Linked DNA regions of Homo sapiens: regions 1 and 2 are each linked to region 3. Evidence: fine-mapped expression QTL. A gene starts in region 3. Each other region holds a variant in brackets. All regions are shown on one strand. Distances are between the middles of the regions.

Region 1 (8,175 bases), 49 kb before region 3:
TAAATAAATAAATAAAAATTAAAAATTAAAAAAAAATAGAGGGCTGAGGGCTGGATCCGAGCAGTGCAACTTCTGTCTGGGGCAGGGGGCCTGGCTTGGACCCTGCCAGCCTCTCCTGGAGATGGGGAAGGAGGAATGGAGGTGGGGCGGGGGAGGTGGGACAGAACCCAGAAGCTGATAGCGTCGGTGAGCCAGGTGCCGCATCCCCGTGCAAGGGCTCACCCCGACCCCCCTCTCACCCCCCAGGGCAGCAAGGAGCGCTTCCACTGGCAGAGCCACAACGTGAAGCAGAGCGGCGTGGATGACATGGTGCTTCTTCCCCAGATCACCGAAGACGCCATTGCCGCCAACCTCCGGAAGCGCTTCATGGACGACTACATCTTCGTACCCTGGGCCAAGGCTGGGGGTGGGCAGGCAGGGAAGGAATGAATGGCTGGGCCATGGACGGAGAGGAGGGTGAAGGAGCAGAGGGAGGAATGGGCCGGGAGAGCACCAAGTGGTGACACAGAGGACAGACAGAGTGACAGCAGGGCTCTGGTTGGGGGCAGCTGTGGCTGCCACTGCTCCCTCTGTCCTGGGGAAGCTCAGCCCCAGCGTGTTCCATTTCCCCCATTCCGGATCCAACCCTGTTTGTTCTTTTTTTTTTTTTTTTTTTTTTTTTTTTTTGAGACGGAGTCTTGCTCTGTCGCCCAGGTTCCAGGCTGGAGTGTAGTGGCACAATCTCAGCTCACTGCAACCTCCACCTCCCGGATTCAAATGATTCTCCTGCCTCAGCCTCCCAAGTAGCTGGGATTATAGGCATGCGCCACCATGCCTGGCTAATTTTTTTGTTTTTGCTTTTTGTGTTTTGTGTTTTGTTTTTGAGACTGAGTGGCTCTTGTTGCCCAGGCTGGAGTGCAATGGCACGATAGCTCGCTGCAACCTCTGCCTCCCAGGTTCAAGCGATTCTCCTCCCTCAGCCTCCCAAGTAGCCGGGATTACAGGCATGCACCACCATGCCCGGGTAATTTTTTGTATTATTAGTGGAGACAAGGTTTCACCATGTTGGCCAGGCTGGTCTCAAACTCCTGACCTCAAGTGATCCGCCTGCCTCGGCCTTCCAAAGTGCTGGGATTACAGGCATGAGCCACCGCGCCCGGCCAGCCCTGTTTTTTCCAAGAGACTCGAGGTGCATCCATTATCTCCATCTCTTCCACCTCCAAGCAATGGAGTTTTAGGAAGCCCTGGGTGGGGGCAGGATGAGGGGACAGGGAGGACAAAACCTACCAGGACACCACACGACCCTTAACCATCCCTCAGACCTACATCGGCTCTGTGCTCATCTCTGTAAACCCCTTCAAGCAGATGCCCTACTTCACCGACCGTGAGATCGACCTCTATCAGGGCGCGGTGAGGCTGGGGCTGGGTGGGAGGCACAGCCCCCAGACTCCTGGCCCCCAGCCCTGGGCTGAGACCTGACCTCCCCTGCCAGGCCCAGTATGAGAATCCCCCGCACATCTACGCCCTCACGGACAACATGTACCGGAACATGCTTATCGACTGTGAGAACCAGTGTGTCATCATTAGGTATGGACAGAGTTGGGGGGCCACAGACCCTGCTGCCCGGGCCCCTGCTGAAACATCACCACCCCCAGGGAGGTTTGCCTGAAACTCCCAATCTGAACATTGCCCTGCTGTCCCTCTCTGCCCTCACTCTGTTTTATTTTCCTTGTCACCATCTGACTCACGATGTATTTTATTGATTCATTCTGCTATTGTCTGTCTGTCCCCTCTAAATGTCACCTCAGGCCAGGTGTAGTGGCTCATGCTTGTAATCCTGGCACTTTGGGAGGCCAAGGCGAGAGGATCTCTTGAGGCTAGGAGTTCAAGACCAGCCTGGGCAATATGGCAACATCCTGTCTCTGTATAGATAATAATTAGCCGGACACGGTGGTGCACGCCTGTAGTCCCCAGCTACTCAAGAGGCTGAGGAGGGAGGATTGCTTGAGCCCAGGAGTTCCAGGCAGGAACAGGTGCTATGATCACACCACTGCACTCCAGCCTGGGCAACAGAGTGAGACCCCATCTCAGTCAATCAATCGATGCCAGCTCTATGAGAGCAGAGAGAGAGAAAGAGAGCGAGAGAGAGAGAGAGAGAGAGAGAGAGAGTGTGTGTGTGTGTGTGTGTGTGTGTGACAGAGTCTCAGTCTGTCACCCAGGCTGGAGTGCAGTGGCACAACCTCAGCTCACTGCAACCTCTGCCTCCCAGGTTCAAGCAATTCTCCTGCCTCAGCCTCCTGAGTGGCCGGGATTACAGGCGCCCACCACCATGTCCGGCTAATTTTTGTATTTTAGTAGAGACTGGGTTTCACCATGTTGGCCAGGCTGGTCTCTAACTTTTGACCTCAAGTGATCCGCCCTCCTCAGGCTCCCAAAGTGCTGGGATTACAGGCAGGAGCCACCATGCCCGGCTGAGAGCAGAGATTTTATCTGTCTTGTTCATTACAGTATCCCCAGTACCCGGAATACTGGCAGGCACACAGTAGGTGCTCAATGAATGAATGGTCAGGCACTAAAAAGGGCTCTTCCCCAACCACTGATCATTTATTCCTCCATTCATCCCCAGTGGAGAGAGTGGAGCTGGGAAGACAGTGGCAGCCAAATATATCATGGGCTACATCTCCAAGGTGTCTGGCGGAGGCGAGAAGGTCCAGGTGAGACGAGGAAAACAGAAGGATAAGCTGGGTCGCCCTCACCTGCATGGTAGTGCAGCCCCACCCATCTGCACTCCTGCCTCAGTCTGACTTCTTCCCACTCCACCTGCCTCTGCCCCAGCACGTCAAAGATATCATCCTGCAGTCCAACCCGCTGCTCGAGGCCTTCGGCAACGCCAAGACTGTGCGCAACAACAATTCCAGCCGCTTTGTAAGTCTCTGCAGACCTGCTTGGAGCAGCTGCTCCCTCCGTGCTGACCTTTCTACACACACACCCACACATACACACACCCGTATTGCCAAGACAAGAGTCCATTGAAAACCCAGCAGGAAATACCTACTCCTGAAGGGGAGACTCACTTCCTGCTCATGGTCCCTTTCAAAAGAGAGTCCCCCATTGGCAGAACTGTGGAGGCCATGACACCCCTGTGTAACATTCTTAAATGCTCCCCCGGCTGCAGCCATGCTACATTGTTCCCATTCACATTTCAGGTCCAATTTATTCCCTCATCCATTCCTTCTTTCGACAATAGTTCTGGGACTCGTTCTTTGTGTGGGTGCTGCGCTGGGCCCAGTGAAAGTCAGGATAGGTAAACAGATATGGATTCAGGGTTTGATTCTATCACTGTGAGCTGTGTAGCCTGGGGGG[G/A]AAAAAAATCTATGCAACTTCCTGAGTTTCCTCTGTTTGCTCATCCATAAAATGGTGACGATGTTAATATCCATCTCATAGACTTCAGTATTACACCTGCACATGGACATGGTTTAATAAATTCCATACCCTTGGGCTGGGTGTGGGGGCTCACATCTGAAATCCCAGCACTTTGGGAGGCTGAGACAGGCGGATCACTTGAGGTCTGGAGTTCAAGACCAGCCTGGCCAACATGATGAAAAATACAAAAATTAGCTCTGCCAAAAATACAAAAATTAGCTGGGCATGGTGGCGGGTGCCTGTAGTCCCAGCTACTCAGGAGGCTAAGGCAGGAGAATCACTTGAACCCAGGAGGTGGACGTTGCAGTGAGCCGACATTGCGCCACTGAATCCCAGCCTGAGCAACAGAGTCAGATTCTGTCTCAAAAAAAAAAGGAAGAAGGGAAGAGAGGCAAGGCTCATAAGACCCATCCCCAACCCTTCCCCCACCTGCACCCCAGGACACTGGGGTGCTGACATGGTTCTCTCGGATTCAGGGCAAGTACTTTGAGATCCAGTTCAGCCGAGGTGGGGAGCCAGATGGGGGCAAGATCTCCAACTTCTTGCTGGAGAAGTCCCGCGTGGTCATGCAAAATGAAAATGAGAGGAACTTCCACATCTACTACCAGGTGCAGGGAAGGGGCCGGGGGAGAGGGAGCACCACCTGGAGCCCAGCGGGGTGGACAATGGGAAGGTAAACACCTAGGGGGGCATGGCAGGGCAGATGAGGGATCACAGGGGCTGAGCCAGGCAAGCACCAGATGCATGAACATGGCACACCCTCCAGCTGCTGGAAGGGGCCTCCCAGGAGCAAAGGCAGAACCTGGGCCTCATGACACCGGACTACTATTACTACCTCAACCAATCGGACACCTACCAGGTGGACGGCACGGACGACAGAAGCGACTTTGGTGAGACTCTGGTGAGCACCGGCCTCTACTCCAGTCCCCGGCCAGGCAGACCTCAGCCCCAGAAACCCTCCTGAGTTACAAATTAGGAAACCGAAGCCCAGGCCAGGCATGTGGCTCAAGCCTGTAATCCCAGCACTTTGGGAGGCCGAGGCAGGTAGATCACTTAAGGTCAGGAGTTTAAGACCGGCCTGGCCAACGTGGTTAAACCCCGTCTCTACTTAAAATACAAAAATTAGCCAGATGTGGTGGCGTGTGACTGTAATCCCAGCTACTGGGGAGGCAGAGGCAGGAAAATTGCTTGAAAACGGGAGGTGGAAGTTGCAGTGAGCCGAGATCACACTACTGCACTCCAGCCTGGGCAACAGAGTGAGACTACATCTCAAAAAAAAAAAAAAAAAAGGCCAGGCACGGTGGCTCACACCTGTAATCCCAGCACTTTGGGAGGCCGAGGCAGGTAGATCACCTGAGGTCAGGAGTTCAAGACCAGCCTGGCCAACATAGTGAAACCCCATCTTTATTAAGAATACAAAGATTAGCCGGGTATGATGCCATGCGCCTGTAGTCCCAGCTACTAGGGAGGCTGAGGCAGGAGAATCGCTTAAACCCGGGAGGTGGAGGTTGCAGTGAGCCAAGATAGCGCCGCTGCACTCCCGCCTGGGTGAAAGAGTGAGACTCTAAAAAAAAAAAAATAGGAAACCAAAGCCCAGTCCGGACACGACGCTCACGCCTGTAATCCCAGCTACTCGGGAGGCGGAGGCAGGAAAATCGCTTGAACCTGGGATGAGGAGGTTGCAGTGAGCCAAGATCATACCACTGCACTCCAGCCTGGGCAACAGAGGGAGACTCTGTCTCAAAAATAAAAAATATAATAAAAAACAAAGCCCAGAGAGGTGCAGGCACTTACCCAAGGTCACGCGGCAAGTGACTGAAAGGGGTAGGACAGGGACCCAAGGGTGCTCACTCCCTGAGTCCGTGCTGTGGTCCCTCAAGCCTGCCCCTGGAGGCAGGTTGGAGGCCAGGATTCACGGCACAGTTTCTGCCCCCGTTGTACCACAGAGTGCTATGCAGGTTATTGGGATCCCGCCCAGCATCCAGCAGCTGGTCCTGCAGCTCGTGGCGGGGATCTTGCACCTGGGGAACATCAGTTTCTGTGAAGACGGGAATTACGCCCGAGTGGAGAGTGTGGACCGTGAGTGTGGGTATCAGGGAGGGCTGGATGGAGGCCTGTGGGTGGGTGAACTGCGTCCTCCTAGCTCAGCCCCCAGGAAGCTGAAAGCCCACGAGGAAAAAAATGTGGGTGTCACTGGGCAAGATGGGGATAATAGGAGGCCCATGCAGGAGGCACAAGAGCCCAACCAACTGTCCCATTTTTGCCCTGACCTTTGCCCTGGTAGTCCTGGCCTTTCCCGCCTACCTGCTGGGCATTGACAGCGGGCGACTGCAGGAGAAGCTGACCAGCCGCAAGATGGACAGCCGCTGGGGCGGGCGCAGCGAGTCCATCAATGTGACCCTCAACGTGGAGCAGGCAGCCTACACCCGTGATGCCCTGGCCAAGGGGCTCTATGCCCGCCTCTTCGACTTCCTCGTGGAGGCGAGTGGGGCTGGGGCTGGAAGGCAGAGTGGATGCTCTGGGGTCACAAACATTTATGGAAGCTGAGTGCAGTGGCTCACGGCTGCAATCCCAATGCTTTGGGTGGCTGAGTTGGGAGCATTCTTTGAGGCCAGAAGTTCAAGACCAGCCTGGGCAACATAGCAAGACCCCCATCTCTACAGAAATTTCAAATTAGTTGGGTGTAGTGGTGTGCATGTGTAGTTCTGGCTACTCAGAGGGCTGAGGTTGGGGGATCATTTGAACCCAGGAGGTTGGGGCTGCAGTGAGCTATGATTGCGCTATTGTACTCCAGCCTGGGTGACAGAGCAAGACCCTGTCTCTAAAAAAAACTTTTGGCCAGATGCAGTGGCTCATGCCTGTAATCCCAGCACTTTGGGAGGCTGAGGTGGATGGATCACTTGAGGTCTGGAGTTTGAGACCAGCCTGGCCAACATGGTGAAACCCCCTCTCTACTAAAAATTACCCGGGAGTGGTGGCACATGCCTTTAATCCCAGCTACTTGGGAGGCTGAGGGAGGAGAATCACTTGAACCTGGGAGGTGGAGGTTGCAGTGAGCTGAGATCGTGCTATTGTATTCCAGCCTGGGCAACAGAGAGAGACTCTGTCTCAAAATAAATAAATAAATAAAATAAAAACTTTTTTAATGTATGGAGTCAGCCTGGGCAACATGGCAAAACCCTGTCTCTACAAAAATACAAAAATTAGCCGGGCATGGTGGCTGGTGCCTGTAATCCCGGCTACTCAGGAGGCTGAGGTGGAAGAATCCCTGACCCCAGGAGGTTGAGGCTGTAGTGAGCCATGATCAAGCCACTACACTCCAGCCTGGACAACAGACTGAGACCCTGTCTCAAAATAAAAAATAAAAATAAATAAAGTATAAAATGTATGGCCAGGTGCAGTGGCTCATGCCTGTAATCCCAGCACTTTGGGAGGTCAAAGCGGGCAGATCACCCAAGGTCAGGAGTTCAAGATCAGCCCTGGCCAGCATGGCAAAACCCCGTCTCTACTAAAAATACAAGAATTAGCCGGGCGTGGTGGCGCATGCCTGTAATCCCAGCTACTTGGGAGGCTGAGGCAGAAGAATCTCTTGAATCCTGGAGGCAGAGGTTTCAGTGAGCCGAGATTGCGCCACTGGCATTCCAGCCTGGGCAACAGAATGAGACTCCATCTCAAAAAAAATAGAAAAGAAAAAGCCCCATAAGGTAGTTGCTATTATCAACCCCTTTTAAAGATAAGAAAATAGAGGTGCAAGGCCGGGCGCAGTGGCTCACACCTGTAATCCCGGCACTTTGGGAGGCCGAGGCGGGCGGATCACGAGGTCAGGAGATCGAGACCACAGTGAAACCCCGTCTCTACTAAAAATACAAAAAATTAGCCGGGCGTGGTGGCAGGCCCTTGTAGTTCCAGCTACTTGGGAGGCTGAGGCAGGAGAATGGTGTGAACCCTGGAGGCGGAGCTTGCAGTGAGCCGAGATCATGCCACTGCACTCCAGCCTGGGCGACAGAGTGAGACTCCGTCTCAAAAAAAAAAAAGAAAAAAAAAAAAAGAAAATAGAGGTGCAGAGAGGTTCAGGGGCAGAGTCAGCTCTGGAGTCAGGGACCCTGATACACTGACACTTGGGTTTCTCCTCTGAGTGACTGATTATGGGGTGGGGAGACTGTACACAGAGCCAGGAAGGGCAGAGCTAAAGAGGGCTGGAGGGAAACTGGCATGAGGGGACATCACCCATGAAGTTGGCTAGGCGTGTGTCTAAGGAGTGGTGGGCAGGGGCTTCAGATCTGACCGATGCCCACTGACTTCCTGTCCCCACCCACACCGCAGGCCATCAACCGTGCTATGCAGAAACCCCAGGAAGAGTACAGCATCGGTGTGCTGGACATTTACGGCTTCGAGATCTTCCAGGTACGGCCCCCTGCCTCCAGCCCACATCCTGTCCTCCCTGGGGCAGCCCAGGGTGGCCACAAGAACTTCCAGCACCAGGACATTGAGGGAAGGACCCTTTTCCTCCTTCTGCAGAAAAATGGCTTCGAGCAGTTTTGCATCAACTTCGTCAATGAGAAGCTGCAGCAAATCTTTATCGAACTTACCCTGAAGGCCGAGCAGGTGGGCGGCCAAGCAGTCAGGGATGGGGGATCCTGGGGTGGGGGTGGGGTGGAAGGACCATGAGGATCCCTTAGCAACTAGGGGACACCCCAGCCCTCCCCACCGCGTTCCCACCTCTCTGTGCCAACCTACCCAGGCTCCATAGTGATACTTCCTTCTGCCTCTAAA
Region 2 (8,175 bases), 35 kb after region 3:
TTACAGGCGTGCGCCACCACGCCCGGCTAATTGTTTTATTTTTAGTAGAGATGGGGTTTCACCATGTTGGCCAGGATGGTCTCAAACTCCTGACCTTGTGATCCGCCCACCTCGGCCTCCCAAAGTGCTGGGATTACAGGCGTGAGCCACCGTGCCTGGCCTCTCCACCTTTTTTGCATCTATCAATGCCCCTAGCTCTCTAGCAGCAGCTGTGCAAACACCAGGAGGGCCCAAAGGGGTCTTGGTAAGACACTTTTCAGGGCACTGCGGCAGTGCTATGGTCCCGTGGTCAGGAGACCTGCAGCCTGTCAGTAACTGACAGTGTGACCTTGAGCAAGATCAACTCTCTGGCTTGCCTCCTCTTATCAAATGGCACAACTATTTCAGCTTAGAAGGTTGTTGTCAGGTTACAATGAAAAAGCATAATGACTTTTTAAAAAATGACTCAACTTGATAAAAATACAAAATACTGCCTTTATTCAAAATGAGGCAGAGATGAATAAGGAGGGAATTTTGTCCCAGTTAAATATTTATTCCATTTAAACTACTCAAAGTCCAGTTGTCCCAATAATTAATAATTTTCACTTCCCCAAACCACCAAGCAAGGTGCACTGTCATTCTCACCTGCGGGACCTATGTTTCCCATTCCGATGCCTTTATTCAGGTGATTGGCATCAATGGGTTGCCCTCCTGGTCCTAACCCCATGCCAATACCACCAAGGCCATCTGGAAAGAAAAGAGAAAGAAGCTTAGTTTTCCCCTATTTAGCAAACCTTGACCCTCAAAGGAAAAGAGTGTTTAGTGAGTTGCAGCTATCCACTTCAGCCTACCCACCCCCACCCACCAGTGACCTCAGGGCCCAATGCAAAATTCAACATCGGCACACTTGGAAACAGAGCCTTGTTCCGGCGTTTGGGATATGTGTGTATACAACAAAGGCGGCTGAAAACCAACACGGGAAAGTTAACAACCCCCACACTAAGATTCTTGAGAGCCTATTTGTTTCACTAACCCATGGACTGAGAACTGTCTGATCAAAAAAGGTGACTCAAGACATCAGGTGGCAAGCAGCACAAATGTGCCCAATCCCTAGTAGCCCAAAGGATGTTTCTCATGAAAAAACACGTTACAAACCAGCCAATCAACATCCTGGGTGTCCACTACTCTCTGAATCTGGGTGGTTTTAGTAACAATGAAGCTAATGTATGTATTCAAAGAACCTATCTTCCTTCCCCCAAAGCTTCCCAACCCACAACTGGATACCCAGCCCACACTCAACTCCATGCCCTACCAACACAGACAGGGACACAGAAATACAGGCTGGTCTCTGGAAACAGCCAAAAGAGCTGACACTTGCAATATCTGGGGTAACCACCATCTGAGGCTTAAACTACAACCAGGTAAGCTTTTAAAAATCGTAACAAGGGCAGGCGCAGTGGCTCACGCCTGAAATCCCAGCACTTTGGGAGGCCAAGGCGGGTGGATCACGTGAGGTCAGGAGTTCGAGACCATCCTGGCCAACATGGCAAAACCCCATCTCTACTAAAAAAAAAAAAAAATTAGCCTGGCATGGTGGCACATGCCTGTAATCGCTGCTACTTGGAAGGCTGACAGGAGAATCACTAGAACCCAGGAAATGGAGGTTGCAGCAAGCCAAGACCGCACCACTGCACTCCAGCCTGGGCGACAGAGCGAGACTCCATCAAAAAGAAAGAAAAAGGAAGAAAGGAAGGAAAGAAAGCAAACAAAGTTCATTTAAAAAGTAAATAAAACCTGCCACCACTTCCCAGGCGTTTCATCTGATGAACATTCCATCTTTAATTGCATAGCAACAGCAGCAAGAGATCGCCACGGTGACTTACTCTCCCAAAGCACTGAAGGCTTTGAAGTCAAGCCTCCGAAATGGCCGGGAGACCAAGAGCCATGGATAACAGGCTCCCTGGAGCAGTGTGCTCCTCCTCCTGCTCCAGCACAAGAGTCAACAAGAGCCATCGCCATGGTCCAGGGTGACCACTGCTCAGGTGAGCACACTGACAATTTATTTGGGAAATGAGTATGTTATGTCCAGGAAATGCAATCCTTCTCTAACTAATGTTGCCTTTCAACAGATGAGCCTTCTCATGAAGCCACAGATTTCCCTTCAAGATACATCTGTCATGCTGCCATAATGCTACGCTGCAAAGGTGCTCTGGCCTGGGCTCCCATCCAACTCAGTGAGTAGGGCCCTGAGCTTGAGCTGCTGCTCCAGACCAGGCCCCCTCAACCCGCCTGGTGGAGGTCACCCCAGCACAGCACACACAGGCCTCTCACCCTCATCCATCTTTCTTCTCCAGGAGAGCTTTACCTGCGCCAGTGATTCCCTGAGTCGTCCCACCGCTGTATGCACTGAGGTTCTTGCTTCCAGCCTCTGGCTTATCTATGACTCTGCACTAATATTTGCCACTTCTACCTATGTGGTAGCCCATCAACTAGCCTTCCCTGTCACGAGACAGATTTTCACCTGGGTGTCACAAATAGCTGATCCCTTTCCCCTCTGCATACAAATTATTTGTTCAAGACACTTCACATACCATAAAACTCAAAGTATTCGGTGGTTTTTAGTATATTCAGAGATATGCAACTATCACTACCATTTAATTCCAGAACATTTTCATCACCCAAAAAAGAAATCCAACCTTATTAGCAGTCCCGTCCCTACTTACTCCTTCCCGGCCTCAGGCAACCACTAATCTACTTTCTGCCTTTATGCATTTATCTATGCGGAGCATTTCCTGTAGATGAAATCGAGGTTCATCCACACTGCAGCATGTGTCTTTCATCCTGCTGCAAACATCTGCGTGCGAATTTCTGTGCAGATGTCTAGTGTGCACTGCTAGCCCACATGGGACTAACCAGTATCTTCTGAATTAGAGTGCAGCCTGGTTTTCATTCCCTTCACAGGTTCTGATTCTTCCTTCCCCAGGACACTTTCAAAATGCCTAACCACATCCTCTACATCCTGGTATTACAATCCTAGGATTACCATGAGGTAATCCTAACAATATCCTCAAGTTGTGAATCTCTGCTCATTTCTCACCCTGAAAAATCTATAGAAAAGAACTGGCCAAGAGAACTGAGGGCTAACCTGGCACAGGTTCAAGTGAAACCATATGGTAATTTTCTGTTTATTAGTGTAACTCCAATTCAAACTCTCAGCCCTAATCACTGAAACACTTACGGGGAAGTTGTTGTGGACGCTCAGGAGGGAAGAAATCTCCTTTTGGTAAGGCCCTCTCATCCTGAAAGAGAAAGAAAACAAACAAATCTCAGTATCCAGTGCAGCAGTGTTTGCAACAGCAAAAGACTGAAATGGCCCCCCATCAAGAGAGGACCAGCTAAACACATTATCCACGCCATGGAGTAATACGCAAGGGTAGAAAGGCATGCGGAGC[A/G]TGCTTCCTATTTTATGTCAAGGGAAAAGACACATGGATATTATTGTGGGGGATGATGGGGACCTGGGCAAGAAGTCCAAGTAGGACTCACACTATCTTCACACTACCTTTTCATGCCTTTTGACTTTTGAGTCACGTGAATCTATCATCTATTCAAAAAACTTACCTACTCTATTTAGAGTAATGAAAAAATTGCTTTATAGTTTATCTTTTTCCTGAATTTGAGTCCCAACTAGACTGCCCTCAGCATGTTCCAGTCATGCCTGTAGTAATTATTATCTTTGGCACAGTTACGGCAGAGCAAATGTTTATTAAGATTGAAGTGCTCCAACAGACCTTTAAAAGCTGTCTGAATCAATGACTTAATTATGTTCACAACAGATTTGATGCTAACCAAACATTATACTGTAATACTTTGAAAAACTGGAACCCCACATATATAACCATTCTTTGAAACGGATCACTTGCTCAACCAGGATACCCAGGTGACTTCCTGAATGCGCCATGAACAGTCAACTGTGCAAAAGGAAAAATATCTAATGCAGTCAAGAGCTGCCATGAGCAAAATGTTTTTTTTTCTTCTTTTTTTTTCTTGAGACAGAGTCTCACTCTGTTGCCCAGGCTGGAGTGCAGTGGCACGATCTCGGCTCACTGCAGCCTCTGCCTCCCACGTTCAAGTGATTCTCCTGCCTCAGCCTCCCGAGTAGCTGGACTACAGGCGCGTGCCACCACGCCCGGCTAATTTTTGTATTTTTAGTAGAGACGGAGGAGTTCCACCACGTTGGTCAGGCTGGTGTCGAACTGCTGACCTCATGATCCGCCTGCCTCAGACTCCCAAAGTGCTGGGATTACAGGCGTGAACCACCACGCCTGACCAGCAAAATGTTATTTCTCTCACAATTTTGCTCAACATACTGCACCCTATTTAACTTAGACTAATCCACAAATATTTCATAGTGGCTATATGTACACTCTTATTAATTCCATGTTTTTGCTAGACTTGAGTATATCACAGAGAAAGATCCTACTGACTTACCATCTTGACGTGCATTGGTCTATCAAATAGCAGCTGGCCATTGAACATAGCTGGTATTACAATTAAGGCTATTTCTTGCAATTCTAAAAATGTGCACAAGAGAAATACAAAAAGAAAGAAAAATACTCCAACTGCTACCAGTCCCTCTAAGTGATGAATTTATGAGCAATTTCAATTCTTCATTATACTTTCAACAATAAACATAAAAGGAACAATAAATAAAGCTGGCGGGGAGGACAAGACAACTTCCGCTTATTCCTTAGGTGTGAAGCTTCATTCGTAACCTTACAATTTCACCAAACCATCCTCTTAAGCAGTGGCATCAAGGTTCTCTGAATGTGACCAATGGGCCAGGCATCTACCACTATCTAAACTGAAGGACCATGTTTTCTGGGTAAGACATGCAGTGACGGTCTTGTCTGAGTTGTATGAATGTGCTCCTGTGGGGTACTCTCCAAGGGATTAAAAACTCTAGGCTAAGCCTAGGGTCAAGGAGAAGTGGCCTCTTCCAAAATGATGTCTACTCACTGGAAAGAGTGAGGTCCTATAAGGATGTATTACACATGAAACAACAACCCCACTTTCTCTCTAGTAGCACATTCTTTGGACTTCCTCCTTCAAACCTAGACTCTTCTGAAAAGAAAACAGTAGAAAGACTCATGGGCATATGCCCATGTTGTAACCATCCCCTCTATCCACACTGTATTGAATCAATTCCACCCCCAGAGAACCTTTTTTTTTTTTTTTTTTTTTTTTGAGACTGAGTCTCACTCTATCACCCAGGCTGGTGGTGTGCAGTGGCGCAATCTCGGCTCACTGCAACCTCCACCTCCCGGGTTCAAGCGATTCTTGTGCCTCAGCCTCCCGAGTAGCTGGGATTACAGGCACCCACCACTGCGCCCAGCTAATTTTTGCATTTTTTAGTAGAGCCGGGGTTTCACCATGTTGGCCAGGCTGGTCTCGAACTGACCTCAAGTGATCCGCCCGCCTTGGCCTCCCGAAGTGCTGGGATTACAGGCGTGAGCCACCGTGACCGGTCCGGCCCAGAGAACCTCTTAATTCCACAGTAATGCACTCCCCCTAGTCACATAAAAAACATGAATACACACAGTCACCTCTTCCTCACACAAACCTACATTACTAACACAGCAATTTAGGTCAAACTGTTCATAAGTTGAATTCCTGCAGAAGGATACATATAGCTTGCACAGCTTCAATGGACTGTTCAAAAGTAACAGTGCCTATTCCACGACTTTTTCCATCTTTATCTTCAAGAATGTCTGCTCGGACCACCACACCAGCCATACTAAATACTTCCTTCAGTTTCTTCCAGCCAACTTTATAATCCAGCTAATCGAGAGAGAACGGGGTAAAAACCTCAATGTAAACATCTTAAGAAACACAACATTTTTACTACATGAATGATACATGCTTTGGTTGGAAAAAAGTATTAGGAAATAATGTCACAAAAACTAATCAACTGCAATGGAAATTTTAAAATAGGATTATAAAGCCTGGCCTTCACTGTAAATAAACTGTACCTATAGTAAATATATTGTCTCTTTTCTCAGAAACTTAAGTCACCTCATACTTCAAATTAATACTCATTTTCTGAACATTTTTAAAAAATTGTTTCCCTGATAAGCTTTACCACTCCCCACCCCACCCAACCTACTTTATTCTAAAAATATTTCCCCTTGCAGATGGTGGAGGTATTATCATTCACCCCAGACACAACAAGAGGAAGGTGTCAGTGCACTTCTGCTCGTACAGTCTTACTCTGCACCAAAACTGCATAAAATAAACCAACGGAGAATGCAGACTCGGTTACTGCTTGCGGAAACACCTGCGAAACTCAGGAATCACAGCCCCAACGAGACCACGGTCAAGCCTGTGACTTAGGAATGCAGACAAAGCCCGCCTATAAGGCTGATTTTTAAAGAAATCAAGAACAAAACCCTTCTTTACATTTTTCTTCTCAAATGTGAGAATTACTTTTATAACATATTGACAAGGTCATTTCATAAAGTTCTGATTTTCTACTTTAGACGATGGTTCTGTTTACTTACATTTGCTACAAATACTGTGCTTCCAAGTCTTCCAGCCTGTAATGCATGGATAATCTCATTTGGGATGTTGGGATTATTTAGGATACTGGGTGGGATAGTAATCATTCCTGGGCCACCTGGTCCCATACCCATCCCACCAGTCGTAGCCATCACCTTTTGCATTGCTCTCCTGGCATGTTCACCATCAGGATCCTAAAACAAGCACAAAAGGTGTTACGTTTAACTGACCCAGTACAACGCAAACCATGCTTGCACAGTAAATGATATTCTCAAGACTTAGAAACTGAAAGGTTGTTTGGAAAGCATCTCTCAAATCTATTAACAAGAAAGTCAAATGAACTCAACTACCAGCTTAGAAGAGTCCAGCTAAAGAAATAGGAAAGGAAGAAAAGGCATGAAGTGTAGCACTAAAAACACAGCTCTCAATTGCACTAAGTAAAAAAGAAAAGCAGGGTAGGGAGGGAAACATGATTAGCTGATATAATGTAGAACCGCCAGACTGAAATTAGAGCTTCATGGGCTTGGTATAGCTGAATCTTACTAATTCATCAATGGGGTTTTGTAACTTCTGCAAACCCCGTCAATGGCTTCCAGAAGTTTGAGAAACAGTTCTAGACCACACAAGCGCCCCCATCCTTCAAGTCCTTCAGGTGTTGGAGGCGTGTGTGTGAGGGCTGCGCAGTAAAACAACATCTGGGAAGGTCTGTGAAGCTCTGTACTGACTCTCTTCTTCAACTCTCTGTCCTGTCAATTACCACCATCAGCACTAAAAAAGACATCATAACACATGAGAGACCTTAGACCCTACCAAGCTTCACTCTGAATCTACTCATCTTCCTCCCCAAGAGAAGAGGTGAAAAGAAGTTAAGAGGGATGTTTTTTTGAGACAGAGCTTTGCTCTTACTGCCCAGGCTGGAGTTCAATGGCGCGATCTCGGCTCACTGCAACCTCCGCCTCCTGGGTTCCAGCGATTCTCCTGCCTCAGCCTCCCGAGTAGATGGATTACAGGCACCCCCCACTACGCCCAGCTAATTTTTTGTATTTTTAGTAGACAGGGTTTCACCATGTTGGTCAAGCTGGTCTTGAACTCATGACCTTGATCCACCCACCTCAGCCTCCCAAAGTGCTGGGGATTACAGGCGTGAGCCACTGCGCCCAGCCAAGAGGGATTTAATCAACAAAAAAACCTTCTTCCTCAAGGAATATATTTGATTCAGATGAGATGTGAAAGCAGGTTTGAGGAATAACAAACTCACTTTATTTTTTTATTTTTTAGACAGGGTCTCACTGTTGCCCGGGCTGGAGTGCAATGGTGCAATCTCAGCTCACTGCAACCTCCACATCCTGGGCTCAAATGATCCTCCTGCCTCAGCCTCCCAAGTAGCTAGGACTACAGGCATGCGCCACCATGCCTGGCTAATTTTTGTACCTTTTGTAGAGAGGGGGTTTCACCATGTTGCCCAGGCTGGAACAAACTCACTTTTTAAAAAAAGAAAAAAGATGGGCCAAGAAGAAGGGTCAGATGGAGTAAAACTTAATGGCACAAACCCACGGGCTCATGGTTTGAGAGTCCCTGAGACAACAAGGCCTCAGACAAATCACAGATATTAGAAGGTGGTCAGCAGCCACTCAGGATCTG
Region 3 (8,175 bases):
CATGATGACTGGTGAGTCCTTTGGGGTGGACGCGAGGATGAAAAGAGAGGCTGCAGGGAGAGGAGGGGCTTGGGAAATGTCTGCTGAGAACTTCACGTCCCGAGCCCATGGCTGCCTGGGACTCTCTCGACCTGGGGAGGAGGGTGGGACAGGGTGAAGGGGCCCATTTTACAGATATATAGAGAAGGTGAGGCTAGGAGGCCTCTAGCCAGCCCCAGTTCCCAGTCAGCGGCACTGATTCTGCACCATCTTGGGAGCTGCGCACGGTTACCACGAGAAGAGAAAACCCTGCCAGCAGGTCCAGAGGACACGCCCCTGTTCCCGCATTCTGCAGGTCCCTAGATCTGGCTGTAGTCCAAGCCTCTCCCCCATCTCCAGGGACAGCGCTGTGTTCTCTGTCCCCCAGGCCCCTAACCCCTCTCCAGGGTCCCGGGGGCCCCCAGGAGTCTTTGTCCCCATCAGTTTCTTTATTCGGCCACCCCCAGATCTAGGCCACGCCTCTTCCCAGTCTGTCAGTATCTTTCCAGAGAAACCTAGAGCCAACACGTCCGTCCAGGGACCTCTCCCCTACCCCATCACCCACGGAGATGGGACAGCCCTTCCTGTGTGTACAGCGGGCCCACGGCCACCACACTACCCTCTGGAGTGAACTGACTGCCGCGAGGCCTGGGGAGCTGGCTCACCACCTGTCCTCCACCGTTCACCCTGTCCACTGCAGAAACGACCTCCTACCCTCAAGCCGGCCCCCAACCCCCATGCACAGGAGCCCAGCCCTCTTGGGCCCCGGCTCCGCCCAGCAGGGGGCGCCCAGGAATCTCAGACTCGGGGGAATGAAAGCCGGGAGAGCAGTGGGGATAGCGGGCAGGTTGGCTGGAAGCCGCGGGCTCGCGCTGAACAGCTCTGAGGCCGGCCAGAGGCCCGTGCCCGGCATTTGTCCAGCCCCAGCTGTCACTTGCAGGTGCCGGTCCGGTTACCCTCATTGCGGGCCAGGAGCGGGGAGGTGGAGGGCGCCCTGCGGCCCTGGGATCCGCCGCCCACGTGCTCCCCGGGCTCCTCCCCCTGCACACCGTTGTTCGCGTTTCCGACCCCGCAGATTCCCCAAGGCGCGCCCTAACGAACTCTCACTCCCCTGGTCCGGGCTCCCTTCTCCGGGATTCCGGTAACCCTATCTGTCCCTGTCTGCAGCCGCGCCGCGCGGAACCCTGCCGGGAGCCCCTACGGAGGCGCCAAATACACAAAGGGTAGTTGGCGGGGAGGCGCACCATGACTACAGCTCCGGGACCTGCGCTTCACCCCCACGGCGCCCCCGTGGGGCCTTGGTGCGCGCGCCCTGGCTGGACCCTCCTAGCTGCGAGAGTGCACGGGTAGTGACCAGCCCAGGCACCTGGGAATCCATCAGCTGTCATCCAATCCTTTAATTACCTTGATTGAGCTCCTTACTGTGGCCAAGCATTGCTTGATTTATTTATTTACTTATTTTTATTATTTAATTTAATTTTTTTTTTTTTGAGACGGTGTCTCGCCTTGTCACCCAGGTTGGAGTGCAATGGCGCAATCTCAGCTCACTGCAACCTCCGCCTCCCGGGTTCAAGCGATTCTCCCGCCTCAGCCTCCCAGGTACCTGGGATTACAGGTGTGCACAAACAGTATTTTTAGTAGAGACAGGGTTTCATCATGTTGGCCAGGCTGCTCTCGAACTCCTGACCTCAGGTGATACGCCCGCCTGGCCTCCCAAACTTCTGGGATTACAGGCGTCAGCCACCGCGCCTGGCCACTTGTTCTTTCTTTCATTCTTTCCTTCACTTGCCAAGGTTCTGGAGACCCACAGAGAGCCCATACTGTCCTCCCGAGACTCCTTTTTGGGAGGGCAACCCACATCTGGGAACTGTGCCCCAGGACAGGATGCAAAGGCACAACAGAGATGGCAGAATCCTGATGTCTGTGCTCTTAAAGGAGGCGTGAAAACAGGCAGGCCAGGCGCAGTGACTAAGGCCTGTAATCCCAGCACTTTGGGAGGCCCACGTGGGTAGATTGCTTGAGGTCAGGAGTTTGAGACCAGCCTGGCCAATGGTGACACCCCAGCTCTGCTAAAAATCCAGAAAATTAGCCGGGCATGTTGGCAGGCACCTGTAATCCCAGCTACTTGAAGCCGGGAGGCAGCCTGGGAGACAGAGCAAGACTTTGTCTCAAAAAAAAAATTTTAAAATGTTTTAAAAATACTTGCTCGGGCCACACCCCAGACTGATTAAGTCAGAGTTTCTTGTAGGTTCTGTTTTTTGTTTTGTTTTTTTTTAGATGGAGTTTTGCTCTGTCACCCAGACTGGAGTGCAGTGGAGCCATCTCGTCTCACTGCAACCTCCGCCTCCTGGGTTCAAGCAATTCTCCTGCCTCAGCCTCCCAAGTAGCCAAGATTACAGGCATGCGCCACCACGCCGAGCTAATTTTTGTATTTTTAGTAGAGATGGGGTTTCTCCATGTTGCCCAGGCTGGTCTTGAACTCCCAACCTCAGGTGATCAACCTCAGGTGATCCACCCGACTCAGCCTCCCAAAGTGCTGGGATTACAGGCGTGAGCCACACTGCCCAACCGCCGGTTCTTTTTTTTTTTTTTTTAACTGTTCAGGCAATTCCAACATGTGCTCAAACTGAAAACCAGGGCTCTCTACTCTCTTAGCAGGTGTTTTCTCCCTTTGTCTACCGTGACGGAGATTACTGATCTCCTGTGGGCTGAGCTCTGTGGTCAGGGCTTGTCCTTATCTGGCCAGTCCTCGGCACCACAAGTGACTGCCTTCACCCCCTCTTGGCCCCTGTCTCTGTCTCCTGGTTCCTCTTCTCTCTACTACCTCTAACCTCTGGGAATCTGGTGTGTCCTCGGGTCCTCAGACCCCCTCACTCCTCCAGAACTGCAAAGCCTTTTTTTTTTTTTTTTTTTGAGATGGAGTCTCTCTCTGTCACCCAGCATGGAGTACAGTGGCGTGATCTTGACTCTGCAACCTCCGCCTTCAGGGTTCAAGTGATTCTCCCACCCCAGCCTCCCAAGCAGCTGGGACCACAGGCGTGCACCATCACACCTGGCTAATTTTATATTTTTTGTAGAGATGGAGTCTTGCTACATTGCCCAAGCTGGTCTTGAACTCCTGGGCTCAAGTGATCCTCCTGCCTCAGCCTCCCAAAGTGTTAGGATTACAGGCGTGAGCCACCGTGCGTGGCCCAGGTGCAAGGCCTTTGACACCACTCACCCACCGACCCCCAAATCTGCTGTACCAGCTAAGCTTTCTGCCCAGGGCGGCAGCCTGGGACATCCATGGCCTGTGATATCTGCCCCAGAACAAGTGAGTCCTGCTCAGAGCCGGGAATTGGATTTCATGGAAGTGTTGAAATGAGGAAGGCGGATGAGCCAACCAGGGCAGACAGCAGAGGCCTCACCCGGTCACATGGGCCCCCACGTCCTGGGCCTCTGGGCCTCCCCAGGAGCCTCCTAAACCCCAGAGCTGTCCGTACCCCTGATCTGCTGAGATCTCCCCATCCTGTGGCTCTCTAGCCCAGGAGGTCACCAGGGCCTGGCATGGAGTCCTCCCTGGAGTCCAGAGATGGGGACACCAAAGTAGTAGGAATGATGGGGACTATAGAGAGTAAGAAACTAGTTGGCCAGGCGTGGTTGCTCACGCCTGTAGTCCCAGCACTTTGGGAGGCCGAGGCGGGCAGATCATCTGAGGTTGGGAGTTTGAGACCAGCCTGACCAACATGGTGAAACCCCGTCTCTACTAAAAATACAAAAAATTAGCCGGCAGTGGTGGCACATGCATGTAATTCCAGCTACTCAGGAGACTGAGGCAGGACAATCGCTTGAACCTGGGAGGCGGAGGTTGCAGTGAGTCGAGATTGCGCCACTACACTCCAGCCTGGGCAACAAAGTGATACCCCGTCTCAAAAAAAAAAAAAAAAAAAAAAAAAAGAAAGAAACTAGTGACCATGTTAGGAACATGCGGGCAACCAGTGCCCCAAGCTTGGGACAGTAGCAGGCAGGACAGGAATTCAAGCGAAATAGAAGTGCCCAGCAGGGGCCGGGGCAGTGGCTCACACCTGTAATCCCAGCACTTTGGTAGGCCGAGGCGGACCGATCCCTTGAGGTCAGGAGTTTGAGACCAGCCTGCCCAACATGGTGAAACCCCTTCTCTACTAAAGATACGAAAAGTAGCCAGGAGCGGTGGTGCGCGCCTGTAATCCCAGCTACTCAGGAGGTTGATGCAAAAGAATTGCCTGAACCCGGGAGGCAGAGGTTGCAGTGAGCCGAGATGGCACCATGGCACTCCAGCCTGGGCGACAGAGCAAGACTCAGTCTCAAAAAAAAAGAAGTGGCTGGCAGGATCTGGAGACGGACTGGAGCCTCCCCACCTCCTTCCCTTCCTCCTCTGCCCTCCCCCGCCCCACCTCTAGCAGCCCCCACCCTGTGTGCTGACCGTGGAGCAGAAGCCACAGTCACTTCCTGAAGGCAGCGGCCCCAGCTCGGGTCCCACTCATCCCATGGCCCATCACCTGCCTGCAGCCATGGTGAGTGCTGGAAGAGGCCTGTGCCTCACTGGCTGGGAAGCAAGGGACACAGATGTTCCCAGAAGGATAGGATCCACCTGTGGAGGGGCGGGCGGGGGGGCGGGGGGTGGCTGCGAAAGACATCTGGGAAACGGGAAGGGTCGGCAAAAAGGACCCGAGGTAGGCGGCCACCAGGCACACCCCAGGACAGCGCGGGCTCCTGGGGGTTCACGCTCAGGTTGGGACTGCGAGGGGGACAGATGGGACTCCCCGGGGGGACAACTCCCGTCTCCCCAGGTCAACATGAGCAGCCATGTGGGAACGGGCTGCTGGGGTGAGAGCAGTGCTTTCCTGCGGGGTGACAAAGTGGGTCATGACCCTCCCCCGTCCAGTCACCCAAGTTGTGACCTGCTAACCCTGACTTATCTAGCCCTGTGGTCGCCCGGGAGCACTTCCTTCAAACCACTCGGGGCTTTGACAGGGGCACTTCAGGCCCCAGGTGGGAATTGCTGCCTTTCCAAGGAGCAATCCTGGTCTCTGGTCCTCTGGATGGGGAAAGTGAGGCACACGCAGGAAGCAAAGGCCACACGTTTCTGCCCTTTCCCTCCCCCAATCTCCTTGACCACAGGTGAAAGGGGCGTTTGTAGGACTAAGGAGGCCTGGCCTTCTTGTGAATCTGCCTACCTCTGTGAGGAGTGGTTGCAGGGCCAGCTAGGAGGGCAGCTGGGACAGCTGGGTATGCAGGAGACAGCGCCTGTGCCCACGGTGTCTGCACCAATCCTCTCAGGCACTGTCAACTGTGAGCATTCCTGACCATCAGCCCGCATGTCAGAGACGGTGTGAGAGGGACCGCATGGCCGTCTCCAGGCATCTCTGTGTTTTCCTGATGGTCAGGCTGAGTACATGGCTGTCTTTGTGCTGCCTGAATATTGTTTATTTCAGCAAATATTTACTGAGCACCTACCATGTTCCAGGCCCTGGGAAGACAGCAATGAATGAGCCAAGTCTCTGCCTTGCAGAGGCTGAGGAACTGAGGGAAGTTGTGGTGTAGAGAGACAAAAAAAAAAAAAAAAAAAAATCAAGACACATTAAAAACAATGTAAAATAGTATAATACGTAGGGGTGGGTACGATGGAGAAAATCATGCATGCTGAATGCAGGGCAGTAGTGGGATGGGGTGATCCATTTAAAATAGGGTGGTCTAGGCCAGGCGTGATGGCTCATGCACTTTGGGAGGCCGAGGTGGGTGGATCACTTGAGGTCAGGAGTTCGAGACCAGCCTGGCCAACATGGTAAAACCCTGTTTCCATTAAAAATACAAAAAAAATTAGCCAGGCGTCGTGGCAGACACCTGTGATCCCAGCTACTCAGGAGGCTGAGAATCGCTTGAACCCAGGAGGCGGAGGTTGCAGTATGGCGAGATTCCACCACTGCATTCCAACCTGGGTGACAGAGTGAGACTCCGTCTCAAAAAAAAAAAAAAAAAAGAAAGAAAGAAAAATAGGGTGGTCTAGGTTGGGCACGGTGGCTCACACCTGTAATCCCAGCACTTTGGGAGGCTGAGGCGGGTGGAGGGTGGATCACCTGAGGTCGTGAGTTTGAGACCAGCCTGGCCAACGTGGTGAAACCCTGTCTCTAGTTAAAATACAAAAATTAGCCAGGTGTGGTGGCGAGTGCCTGTAATCCCAGCTACTTGGGCGGCTGAGGCACGAGAATCATTTGAACCTGGGAAGTGGAGATTGCAGTGAGCCGAGATCGCGCCATTGCACTCCAGTCTGGGTGACAGAGCAAGACTCCATCTCAAAAAATAAAAATAAACAAATAGGGTGGCCTTGGATGGCCTCTCTAATAAGAAAATATGAGAACAGAGGCTGGGAGGAGGAAAAGGAGAGACCCAGGTGGTGCAGAGACATGTCCTGGGTCAGGGACAGGGCAGAGGCCCCGAGGTCGGAGGGAAGTGTTCAGGGTGCAGGGAGGAGAAGGTGGCTGGGTAGGGAGGCTGGTTCGCCCAGGCTTTTATGAGGCATTTAGCTTGAACTGTGGGGACATGAGGAAGCATTGCCGAGTTTTGAGCAGAGGGACACAAACAGACTCAGGGTTCAACAGGCTTCTCCCTCCAGCTGCCATGGGGGGAACTGACCAGGGAAGGGGGTAGGCAGAGGCCCAGGGAAGGGCTTGTTAGAGTAATCCAGGCAATTGGTTGGGGGAGGGCAGACACTGCCTCCCACTACCTCCTGGGGTGACAGTGGTGAAGGCAGTGAGAAGTGGTTGGATTCCGGATGTGTTTTGAAATTAGCACAGAAGGGACTGGGGGCCTGGGCGCGGCGGCTCAAGCCTGTAATCCCAGCTACTGGGGAGGCCGAGGTCGGGGGAATCATTGGAGCCCAGGAGTTGCAAGCTGCAGTGAGCTATGATTGCACCACTGCTCTCCAGCCTGGGCAATGGAACGAGACTGGAGACATGCAGTGGGAGGGGTGAAAGAATGAGGGGGTCAAGGATGCTGGGGGGGTGGGGTACCACCCATGGGGGGAGGGCAGTGGGACTGGAGGCTGCAGGAGGGATGTCGGGATCTCCAGTGCTGCTAGAGGAGGTTGGGTGTGGAATCAGCACTAAATGGAGAAGTAGGGAGGGGTGTCGGTCCCAGGATCCTAGGATCCATGGGGGCTCCTGGGAAAGAGCTGAGGGCTGACCGGGCCTGGGCGCAGGGGTGGTGGTTGTGGGCTGTGCCTGAGGGTCCCCAGGCCCATCCTTCCATGCCCCTTCTGTGTGTTTGAGCCCCTGCCTCATTGGCTCTGCGTCTCCTAGGAGAGCCATCAGGACTTCCGGAGCATCAAAGCAAAGTTCCAGGCCTCTCAGCCGGAGCCCAGCGACCTGCCCAAAAAACCTCCGAAGCCTGAGTTTGGTAAACTGAAGAAGTTCTCCCAGCCTGAGCTAAGCGAGCACCCCAAGAAGGCCCCGCTGCCTGAGTTTGGTGCAGTGTCCTTGAAGCCCCCGCCGCCTGAGGTCACTGACCTCCCCAAGAAGCCCCCGCCGCCTGAGGTCACTGACCTCCCCAAGAAGCCCCCGCCGCCTGAGGTCACTGACCTCCCCAAGAAGCCCCCGCCGCCTGAGGTCACTGACCTCCCCAAGAAGCCGTCCAAACTGGAGTTGAGTGACCTCTCCAAGAAGTTCCCACAGCTGGGGGCCACTCCGTTTCCAAGGAAGCCCCTGCAGCCTGAGGTCGGTGAGGCCCCTTTGAAGGCCTCGCTGCCGGAGCCTGGTGCGCCGGCCCGGAAACCCCTGCAGCCCGACGAACTCAGTCACCCCGCCAGACCCCCCTCCGAACCCAAATCCGGCGCATTCCCCAGGAAGCTCTGGCAACCCGAGGCCGGTGAGGCTACCCCGAGGTCCCCGCAGCCTGAGTTGAGTACCTTTCCCAAGAAGCCTGCGCAGCCTGAGTTCAACGTGTACCCCAAAAAGCCTCCGCAGCCTCAGGTCGGTGGCCTCCCTAAGAAGTCCGTGCCGCAGCCTGAGTTCAGCGAGGCCGCTCAGACTCCCCTCTGGAAGCCTCAGTCCAGCGAGCCGAAGCGCGACTCCAGCGCCTTTCCCAAAAAGGCCTCCCAGCCTCCGCTGAGTGACTTTCCCAAGAAGCCTCCGCAGCCTGAGC

The links. PIP is the estimated chance that this variant, and not a neighbour inherited with it, causes the effect.
Region 1: its variant is the best candidate, but not a certain one, in a credible set for the expression of PRAM1 in whole blood (TOPMed, PIP 0.78).
Region 2: its variant is the best candidate, but not a certain one, in a credible set for the expression of PRAM1 in whole blood (INTERVAL, PIP 0.81).

What each region holds. Positions count from the first base shown.
Region 1 is chr19:8,547,868-8,556,042 of GRCh38, reverse strand. MYO1F (myosin IF) reads left to right here. Exons shown (of 28, transcript NM_012335.4): 2 at 247-384; 3 at 1,300-1,389; 4 at 1,472-1,566; 5 at 2,606-2,693; 6 at 2,815-2,904; 7 at 3,879-4,010; 8 at 4,169-4,303; 9 at 5,349-5,481; 10 at 5,687-5,883; 11 at 7,726-7,806; 12 at 7,921-8,007. Among named protein-coding and RNA genes, the nearest start is that of MYO1F, 25 kb to the left of the region's middle. RefSeq lists a silencer at 2,992-3,192. The variant G/A (reference allele first, on the strand shown) is at 3,343.
Region 2 is chr19:8,463,877-8,472,051 of GRCh38, reverse strand. HNRNPM (heterogeneous nuclear ribonucleoprotein M) reads right to left here. Exons shown (of 16, transcript NM_005968.5): 6 at 6,537-6,728; 7 at 5,664-5,817; 8 at 4,468-4,517; 9 at 3,218-3,278; 10 at 625-726. Among named protein-coding and RNA genes, the nearest start is that of HNRNPM, 23 kb to the right of the region's middle. The variant A/G (reference allele first, on the strand shown) is at 3,432.
Region 3 is chr19:8,498,940-8,507,114 of GRCh38, reverse strand. It overlaps PRAM1 (PML-RARA regulated adaptor molecule 1), which reads left to right and starts at 4,475. Exons shown (of 10, transcript NM_032152.5): 1 at 4,475-4,550; 2 at 7,335-8,175. The coding sequence starts at 4,524. RefSeq lists enhancers at 184-770, 810-1,310, 7,920-8,175 and silencers at 854-1,113, 1,224-1,323, 1,344-1,393.